Linked DNA regions of Homo sapiens: region 2 is linked to region 1. Evidence: fine-mapped expression QTL. Tissue or cell type: sun-exposed skin. Region 1 holds a variant in brackets; the other region holds the start of a gene. All regions are shown on one strand. Distances are from middle to middle.

What was found. PIP is the estimated chance that this variant, and not a neighbour inherited with it, causes the effect.
Region 2: GLI2 starts here. The variant in region 1 is fine-mapped to the expression of GLI2 in sun-exposed skin (GTEx, PIP above 0.99). The same link has a PIP of 0.9 or more in esophagus mucosa and unexposed skin.

What each region holds. Positions count from the first base shown.
Region 1 is chr2:120,910,043-120,915,186 of GRCh38, reverse strand. All of the region lies in intron 2 of GLI2 (GLI family zinc finger 2), which reads right to left. Among named protein-coding and RNA genes, the nearest start is that of GLI2, 180 kb to the right of the region's middle. RefSeq lists enhancers at 1-644, 2,936-3,879. The variant A/G (reference allele first, on the strand shown) is at 2,365.
Region 2 is chr2:120,733,562-120,738,705 of GRCh38, reverse strand. It overlaps GLI2 (GLI family zinc finger 2), which reads right to left and starts at 2,838. Exons shown (of 14, transcript NM_001374353.1): 1 at 2,421-2,838. It overlaps LOC124906073 (a long non-coding RNA gene), which reads right to left. Exons shown (of 3, transcript XR_007087219.1): 3 at 3,856-4,664. It overlaps LOC124907881 (a long non-coding RNA gene), which reads left to right and starts at 1,045. Exons shown (of 2, transcript XR_007087221.1): 1 at 1,045-2,145; 2 at 5,118-5,144. RefSeq lists enhancers at 1-226, 633-1,133, 1,134-1,634, 2,753-2,922, 3,562-4,209.

The sequences.
Region 1 (5,144 bases):
CTGCCGAAAGAGAGAGTGTGCTGGGCTGGGGCCAGCACAGCCACTCCACACCAGGCACAGAGTTCTGAGACTGGTCTCCTGGTGAGGGCAGGTAGGGATGCAGAGGGACCTGCACATTCCAGGGTGAGGAGTGTGCTCCAGCCAACGCCACGGGAGAGGCCAGCCCCGTGCCATTTGGGTCTGGCCGCTCGGGAGCCAGGCAGTCATGGGATCTGTTCCCTGCAACAGTGGCCTTGAAGTGACAGGAGACAGGCCACAAGAGGCGGCATAGTGTCCTGTTGGACAGAGCTGAGGCTGCCGCCAGTGCCACAGCCAAGTCTGGCTTGATTGCTGACTCACCGAACCTTCCTGTGCCTCGGTGTCCTTATCTGTAAAATGAGGATAGGGACAGGACCCATGTCAGAGGGAGACTGTGAAGTGGAGAAGAGCTAGTGCAGGGCCAGGCACGCAGTAGGGCCCCGAAGGGTGCCGGTGTGGCCATCCCTACAGACCCCTCTGCTGGGCTCCTGCCCCTTTAGCAAGGGGTGGGAGACTGGGGTGAGCTCCAGAGGGACACCTGGGAGATCCCCGCCATCACAAGGAATGGGAGGGGCTGCCTGTCTGTCTGGGTAGACATGTAGAGTCCCACATTAGAGAATTTTAGGGCTGGAAGAAACAATAGGGCTGGTCAAGCTTGCTTAAGGTTGAAAACTCTGTCTTGGTCACAGAAGGTTTCTAAAAAAGTAGTGTGCAGCCTCCCCACTGCAAAATGCAATAGATTTGAAGCCCAGAGGACCATGGCTCCCAGGGACCCTGGCACCTTGCAGAATCCAATGCAGAAAGCAGGAATCCAGCCCAGGAGCTGGAGGAGACGGTGCCCAGGCCCTAGTGCTCCTTCCACCTGTCACAGGCCAGGGCTAGGCCAGGTGGCCTGGGATGGATTCAGGCTTTCCCCTAAAATCTTGCTGCCCCTTGACATACTCATTTGACAGTATACACTGGCGACCCCGTCAGCTGGCAGGGACCTTGTCGGCTAGCTATTGCAATGCTGACTGGTCCCCGGCAAGAAGCCCACTTGTCGCAGGTGATTCTCCCTTTCAGGAGGATGACCATGCCATTCCTCTGTCTGGTCCCCACGGGTCGTGAAGGTGTCACTTGCCATTCTGTGTACTTAACTAGCATCCAGCCCCTTCCCTGCAGAGCCCAACAAGAGGTTTCTTGATCTGGCTTATAGGTCCTGCCTTGCGTCCTGCCGAGAGCATCAAGTCCCAGCTTTGCACTCTGCCATAGCTCTTGAGACGACAGTAAGGCCACCACATTTGGTCTCCACCAGGCCCTGGTGATGGTTTCCCAGGCTGAGCCAAGGCACCTCTTTATTCCAGGCTGCATTCTGAGGCAGGGCCTGCCACAGACAATCAATGACCTTTAAAACCGGGCAGCGGAATCAGCCACCTGGACAAGCAAACGAGCACTGGGGCTGGACTTACTGTCTTTCTGCAATCAACAGGGGAATGACAAAATGCTCTCCATTCTTTCATCCAAGCAGGTCCCGTAAGGGCCACTTTCTGGGAGCCTCTTGTCAGTCCCAATAATTATGTTACTCAAAGGGATCCTTTACAATTCTCTCTACCTTGGACTAGAATCTTCCCTAGGTGTCCACTCATCCAATGCAGCCCTGGCCAACAGAAATACAATGTGGGCCACATATGTTATTGTAAATTTTCTAGGAGCCACATTTAAAAAAAACTAAAAAGAAACAGGTGATTATTTTAATAACACAATTTAATTGAACCAGTACGTCAAAAATACTATCACTTCAACATGGAACCAGTAAAAAAATTGTTAATGAGATGTGTTACATGCTTTTATTCCTACTACGTCTTCAAAACCTGGTACCTATCTTGCACTCACAGCACATCTCAATTAGGATAGCCACATTGCAAGCACTCAGCCACACACAGCTCGCGGCTACCCTACTGAACAGCTCAGGCCTAACTCGTTATCATTATTGACTTTCCACTGCTTCAGAATTCTAGTCTAGCTTAGTAAAAGTCCCATCAATACACAAAATATGGTGATGAGAATTCTCCCCAAACCTCAGTCCTTCCTCACCTTTGAATCTTAGCTTCCTACAGACTTCTATTTGGTCGCTTACATTTACTGATGAAAACACAGTTATTTTTCTTCCCTCCTTTCCTCCCTCCCTTCCATTCATTTAACTCACAAACGTTCCCAGAATCGTAGGAGGGTTACTTGCGATTCTGTGGGTGAGGCCGGTGCCCCGCCCAAGGGATTAAGTCAGCCTGTGCCTCTCTCCCCACCCTTCCACACCCTTGACCTCTCCGCGCAGAGCTGGTCGACAGCACCTCCCTTGTTCTGCCCTGG[A/G]TTGCTGCCCGCTGCGTTCTTGATAAGCTTGGAGTGTTCCCAGACACGGGAGTGGGTGTGTGGACTCCCGAGATCTTCGACAAATAAGAGGGTCCGCAGAAAGCAAAGCCCATGCCGGGGTCATGAGGGGCAGTGCGGCAGGACCGTGGAGAAACACCGGGCAAGCCGTGTTACACTTTCGGACGCCTGGCTCCCTGCCCGTGTGATTCTGGACCCAGTTAACTGAATGATGGTTGGAGCACATGCCATTCCCACCACCCTCCCCACTCTCCCCACCAACGACCACTGTGGCGCATGGAAACAGTATTTCTCTTTGCTGGGATACGGTGTCCACCAGCAGGACTGGAGGCCAGTCCATGAATCCGTGGGAAGAGCCTGCTCCCCTATTTTGTTGGTTCAGAAACTGAGACACAGAATATGTGGTCTCATGACCCAACCCTCCAGCCCTGAGCGGTGCCCAGAATCTTATTTCCTAGAATAAGACTGTAGAAGAAAGGGAGGAGGAAAACATGCCAAAGCCTTCCTGACATCAAAAAAAAAAAAAAAAACCTCTTGCAAAACAATATTTTGATGAGCTAAGCATGTGAATTAAAAGCAGACAGAGTCTACTTCTTTTTAAATAAACAGGGTTTAAGATCTAGGGGAAAACTCCCAAATACAATGTGTTTCGGGGCCGGAGAAACCAGAGCTGCCCTTCCACAAACCCAAGAGCAGCCTGGCCTGTGCACTCTCATCCGAGGCGTTTGTGGGCAAAGGCCCTGCTTTGTGGGTCCAGTCACACCTCAGTAGGGGGACCAGGAGGAGGGTCTGAGTGACTGACAGGTGGTCCCCAGGTCCTGCCATTGCCAGCAGAATGGAGTCAAGAGCCCCAGCCTGGCACTCAGGACCTCCAGATCCTGCCCCACAGACTCTCCCAGCCCCAGGGTCAAATGACAGCCTTGCAGACCCCATGCCTCCTAGGCTCCACCCTGCCTAGAAAGCCCCTCCCCACCACACCCCCTCATCCTCATCATGCCAACTCAGCCTGCCCTCAGCAACCCCAGTCCACACGAGCCTGCCTCCAGGAAGCTTCCTGGACCTTTCTTCTGCCACCCCCCTCCACCGCAGGCAGACGATACTCCCTCCACACCATTTCCTCTGAGTCAACGACCAGCCCAGCGAGTGGCATGGAGGAGGTGAGGAGTATGTGCCCAGTGAGTGAATGAATGAATACATGAATGAGTGAATCCTCCCACTATTGGAAAACAGAACCCGAGGATAACAAGGGTGGCCAGTAGCTACCGACTGTCAGTCTAAATTAATTTAGGACCGAGGAGAGAAAGCCATGCTGCTCGGGGCCGCAGTAGGAGACAGAGCAGTTTCTAGGAGTCAGCCACGCACTGGCCCTTCCTTGGAGACTGGAAACCGCAGTGGTTCTAACAGCCAGTGCACAGGGCTTCCTTCACACTGGAGCCTTCCTGAGCATGTTGCATTTGTTAACTCATTTCATCCTCATAGCAATTGATGAAGGTATTGTTACTATTATCTCCACTTTAGAGATGAGGAAACTGAGGCACAGGAGCGTTCAGTAACTTGCCCTGGTTCAGTCAAATGGCTAATCTGTGTCACAGCCAGACCTCATGCCCATTTCTCTGAAATTCCAGACATGGGTGGGGTAGGGTAGGGCGGTATGAGCTCTTCTTGGACCAGGAAGAAGAAATGAGGCCGGGGGAAGGCCCAGGTCCCAGTCTTTGCCCGACTCATCCCCTGTTCTCCTGGGTGCCCACTCCCCCTCAGGGCAGCCTGGGCCAGGCATTGGTGTAATAAGGGTCACAGGTGTGTGATGGAGGAGGGAGCAGTACTCTGTGACCCAGGCCCTGGTAAGGAGGTGGAGCACCAACAAACTCCAGGAAACACAAGGCCAGCCTTGGTATTTTCACTTCATTCGTGGTCTTTCCAAAAGGAAATGTAACCCCTTAAAACAGAATGGGTCTGCCATGCAGCGGCATCTAAGTGCTGCCCAGGTACCCAGCGAAGTCAGAGGCAAGTCCGGGAGGGACCCAGGGGAGGGGAGTTATCTGTTTCCCCAGCTGTGTTCCTGGTGGCTGCTAATAACCCCCATGTATCATTCTGCCTGGCTCCGAAAACATTCTGACTGGCGTTAAAAATGGGCCCCTCTTCTGCCCGTGGCTTGGCGCCCCTGCAACACGTGTGGGATGCTGGTTGTTAGCATGCTGCTTGTGTAATTAGGGCGGCGAGGATGGCAAAGGGCCCACCCCGGGTCCCCAAGAGTGATTGCAGTTCAGAAAAAGCACCCACTTGGTTCTGCGCTGATTAATGATGGACCCCGCTAATAGCCCTGCTTAACACAGGAGTTTGTCAAGATTAAGTAATTGCCTGAAACAAAAAGTGTATTATCTTTAAGGCCCCACTGATGAATGACTGCTGCTAGGAAATGGGGTGATGGATGTCTGTGACTCCCTGCCACCATCCCTCCCCCATTTGCATAAATTAAAATGCATCCCTTGATTAGGCAAGAAGCCCTGACAGACCGTGCCAAGGGACCAGGTGGCTGAGGGCCCTGCTGTCACCCCTGGCTCAGGCCTGCTGACCACCGGGAGGCCCCAAACGGCTTGTTAGCATTATAAGTTGTGGGATGGACATAGGCCTCATGGGCAGGGGTGGACCAGATGCCCCAGGGGGATCAAGGTTGGGACATGACAGCTAAAAGGAGGAAACCACAGCACAGGAAAACGGAGGGGACCCAGAGGGAAATGGGACCCACAGCCCCAGCTATGGCT
Region 2 (5,144 bases), 180 kb after region 1:
TCTACTATCATTCTAATTCTTTCTACCTATAATTCTAATTCTCTCCAAGAGGCTTTGCAAATAGACCGTTCTGACCACAGTCTCTCACTCAGATGCTAGCCCAACTGAAGGCTGGTTCACCTGAGGGATACCTCCTGGGCAGCTGGGCTCTTTCAAATGCAGGATCTTCCCTGTATTAGCTTAAATCCCCTAAAATCACGAAACAATTTCGTGAAACTGGCATATTTCTCGAAGCAGAGGAGAAAATAAAACCACCCTAAATCTTACCAAATATAATTAACTTTAAAACTCATCAGACAAGCGACAACTTTCCATATGGCTGGGCTTGAGTGGAATTCGAATCCCAGGGAAAAACATCTCCACAATTTCCTGTAACCCTCAAGAGAGAAGCAGCAAGTCTAGGAAAACAAAAGCAAGAACGATGAAGAAAGAGGCACAAGAAGCATAGTCAAAAAGAAGAGAAGGCCCCTGATGGATCTGGATTCCACATTCTAGAATGACTGCCCCAGGACAGACCAGAAGCTGGGAAAAGCCTAAATAAAGAGCCTCCAAACTCAAAGCAGCCAGGCATAGCCAAGGTGCCCCCCGTCCCTGTGGAGTCAGGCCCAGGTAGCCACACCGTGAGCTTCCCCCTAAACAAGCAACTGCAAAGCCGTTCCCAGGCCCCAGGGAGGGCCTGTCCCCAGACACAGGGAAACCCAGCCAAGGGAACTCCCAGCAAGGTAAGGAAATGGGCGGAGAGAAAGCTGGCAGGTGAGGTGGCTGGAACAAACTGGTCTCATCAGGGAGGCCTGTGACAAACCCGCCTATTCCTCCGCTTTCCCCGCTGTATATTTTGGATTTCACAGTTTATTTACTTTACTTTTTGGCACCGAGCCCCCTGAGCATGCCAATACAATATTTGTTTAAACACTATTTTATGCTGCTTGCGAGGGAAACGTTTACTTTCAAATTCTCCTACATCCCCCAGAGCCTCGTCTGCAAACAGCCTATGAGCGTTTTACAACTGCTCCCTTTATCTGAAGCTGTCGGGATTAAACCTTCACACGCCCGGCAAGAGCGGCGGAGAGGGGGCCCGGGACACCGCTGCGGCCACCGAGCTGCAAAGCCCGTGCCAGAGGTCGCGCACCGAGCGGGATGCCCGGGCTGGGGGACAGAGGGACGCCTACAAGACTCCCAGGGCGCGGGACCAGACAGTAGGGACAGGTCTACTTTTCCAGCTGGGATCAACTCTAGGAGCCACAGAACAATTACACAAAAGAGAAGGTAGTGGAAAGAGGCACCCTCGGGGGGGCTCGAGGTCCCCGAGAGCCTCAGCGACCGATCACCCAGGGTGAGGCGCACGGGCTCCATCCCCAGCTCCCCGCGCGGTAAAAGTCGGGTTTCCTAGGAAATGACAGCAGTTACCGCCGGGCTGAAAAGGCGCCGAGCTGGGTGGACTCCCAGCTCTCCAGCGCGGCGGGCGCGCTCACACTCACACACGCAAGCACACGCTCCCTCCCAGCTCCCCGCCCCCGCCCCGTCCGGGGAAAAGACTCCCCTCTCTAAACCCTTAATAGGATTGGCGCCCAACTCTCTCCGCGCCTCTCCCCATCCATCACATACAGATCAAGTTGCAGTAGTGGATTTTTCAAATTCCTCAGCAAATATACTTGTTGAGAGATTGTCGGGGGTGGGGAGAGACGATGAGTAGGGGGGCAGGGATGAAAGTGAGGTGGAAGGGGGAACCGGAGGACCCGGCAAAGGATTACGTGCGGATCCCTTTGGGAAGTCAAGCGGATCTCAGGGCCGAGGGCAGGAGAGGAGGAGAAGAGAGGCAAAGAGGGGGGGCCGAGGAGGAGAGCCCAGCAGAGGGGGAGGGGGCGGCCGGGCCGGGCGAGGGGGAGGAAGGATTGAGGAAGGAAGAAAGAAAGGCAGGGCTCCGGGACGCGCAGCGCGGAGAAGTGGAGTTCGAAGTTCTCAAGTGGCTGGCTGCAGCCCCTCCGCGCTCAGTACGCCCGCAGACACGCTCCCATGCCCACCTACGGCAGCTTCGGAGCATCCCAGCCTCCGATCCCACCCTCCACCCCCTGAAAAAACAGACCCCCGCCGGCGCGCGGAGGCCGGCTCGCTGTGCACCCCGAGAAGAGTGGTGCTCTCCCCCAGGTAGGGAGAGGGTGCAACATCGACCTCTGGCCACGAGCTCCAAGCCCCAGGACTCTCCTTACGTCCCCGCCCTGCTCGTCCAGAGCCCCAGGCGGGGTCGCGCCTACTAGCCTCTAGTCCCCCGAAGCCCAGGGCCCCGATCCCAAGGCCTAGGCGCCGGTACCCGGCCGAGGGACCCCCCGAGACGGCGCAGCATCCCAGTCGGCCCGCGCTTGGCCGAGGTGGGAGGCGCTTCGTCACGAAAAGCAAGCAAAAGAAGGCCAATGCAACTTTACCGAGAGAGACAAAAGTTTGCCTCTAGCACGCAGGTGGCCTCTCGGGCGCCGGGCGGTGGCTGTGGGCCCCCATCCCACCTTGGCTGGCGCGGCGACCCTCGGCTGGCTGCCTTGTGCCGGGGCTCCAGCCAGCCGGGGCGGGGCGGGCCAGGCAAGAGAGGGGACCGAGAGGCGGGCGGGCGCCGCGCAGCCCCTACCGCCGGCGAGCAGGCGGCTCCCCGAGGCTGCGGCGCGCCGCGCGGCCCAAGCTCTTTCCTCCGGCTCCTCCTGCGGCTCCTGGCCTTCCTCCGCGTTCGCAGTCGCAGCCGCCGCCGCCGCCCGCTCCTCCTCGAAGTCTCATTGATGGGAGTTTGAAAAAAAGTCCGCGGAGCCGTGCTGCCTCGGCTGGCAAGCGCCGGCACTTCTGCAATCCATCAGCGCCGCCGGACTGCGCAGCGCCCCCGCGCGCACGGTGCGGGCACACCCGGGCCCCAAGAACCCGCCAGCCAGCCCGCCCGCTCCCTGCCGGGGGACGCAGGGGGACCCGAACGCCGCCGGGGCGGGGGGAGGGGAAAGGGGGAGCACAGGGACTCTCCCCACCCAGCACCAAGGAAAGAAAACGCACCTACAAGGAAAGTTCGAGAAAGGAACCAAAGGACGCGCCAATCTCCGACACTTTTTTTAGACGACTAGGTGTGGGGGGGGGGGTTGGGGGTGTCGCTAACTCAAGTCAGATGAGCTCCGGAGCTGAGGGGCAAGGGCTGCTCTGTTTTCAATCTCTGAAATCCCCCCGCCCTCCCCACCTCCCACTTCCCTCCTCGGGGAGATGCCTGGGTCGCTGTTCCCAGGGCGCCCGCTTCTCTGGACGCCCGCGCGGAAGCCGGGGACGCCAGAGAAGGGACGCGGGGGCTGGGTCCACGCGGACCCTCTTCCCGCGGGCAGCGAGCGCAGGTGCCGGGGGTCCTGAGGCGTCCCCCGCCGCCGCTAGCCCTCGTCGCCATCTGAGCACACGCTGGCGAGAAACGAAGCAGCCTTCTAGGTTTGGTGCATGTGGCTTGCAGGGTGGGTTTTTGTTTTGTTGTGTTGTGTGTTTTAGAGACTCCACTCGAGCCGCTGAAGCCAGATGGAAGTAATCAGAACCCAACAACAACAGAGAAAGAAGGAAGAAAAAACTCCTCATTGAATTTTCTAGCCAAAGTGTATATGGGGCTGTGTGTGAAAGAACTTGCTTAAGCAAGCTCAGTGAGGAGCCCTGGGCCCTCAAGCCACACCACAGCCCGGAACTGGGCCGCCAGGCTTGGAGGAGAATTGGGGGCAGCTGGCTAAAGTGTCCTCCCCACACCCCCGGGCCTGCCACCCTCTCCAGGGCCCCTGGGCCTCACCCGAAGAGGGTCTTGGGGGGAATTTCTGGTTTTATTCTTCCTAACGTTTGTAGAACACTCTACCAAGTGCCAGGTGATGTTATATTTTCTTTGTATTATTGGACTTTCACAGCTCTGTAAGGAAGGTTCTCTTCTCGTGTTTTTACAGGTGGGAAGTCTGATGCTTTAAAAAGTTAAGTAACTAGTCTAAGGTCAGAGCACTCTGCCATCCTCCCAGAGCTTCGGGTGGTTGTACTGTAAGTTCAGTTAAATTTGCCCTGTTGGGCCGGGCGCGGTGGCTCACGCTTGTAATCCTAGCACTTTGGGAGGCCGAGGCACGGGGATCACCTGAGGTCAGGAGTTCAAGACCAGCCTGGCCAACATGGTGAAACCCCGTCTCTACTAAAAATACAAAAAATTAGCCAGGGATAGTAGCGCGCGCCTGTAATCCCGGCTACTTGGGAGACTGAGGCTGGAGAATCTCTCAAACCCCTTGGGAGATGGAGGTTGCAGTGAGCCATGATGGCGCCACTGCACTCCAGCCTGGGTGATGGAGCGAGACTCTGTCTCAAAAAAATAAATTAATTAAATTAAATTTTTAAAAAATTGCCCTGTTGAGGTGGGTGGAAGTGTCTCTCCCTTCAGCCCCTGTTCCTAAAATTGCATTTTATTTGAAATGCAAGGGACCCAATGCTACCCTCCCTGAGGGGATGTGACCTACACAGGCCCATTTCACCGGTGCAACCCTTTTTGTGGGTGGCTCTCTCCATATACCTTTTATCCTCTGCTAACTTTATTCTTTTACTTTTTAATCAAAGAGGATGCATTAGAACTTCATTCCTTAAGATCCTCCTTCCTCCTCCTGACATTCACTTATATGATGGAGCAACAATTTCTTCTTGACCTAGAGAAAAAAATATGCAGAAAAATATTAGAACAATTTGATGCTAATTTTGTTTGGGGGGAAAAGGTCGGCAGCATTTTTAAAAAGCGAAACTTGCATAAGCCAATGATTTAAAGAGAAGTTTGAAAGGGGCTTTTTCTTTAAAGATGATCAGATTCACCATTCCTCCGTGCTATTTGTTTAAATTCCTGCTGAGCTTTCAGAACACAGACTCTAAGGAGACAGAAAAAGTAAACTCTCCCTCCCCTCCTTGGCCATATTTTAATGACCCTATTCATATCTGCCCCATGACATGTAGGGAATCATTTCTCATTGCTGGAATATTAGCCGCGTTGGCTGATTACTTCATTATGAGCTTGTCTCTGTTGATTTCCTTGTGTTGTAAAGTTTGTGAAGAAGTTTAAACAAATCAATGTTTTAGGATATTTCCTTCTTCTCTGTTTTTCTTCTCAGACCAGCTCAACTCCTGCTGGACTCCAG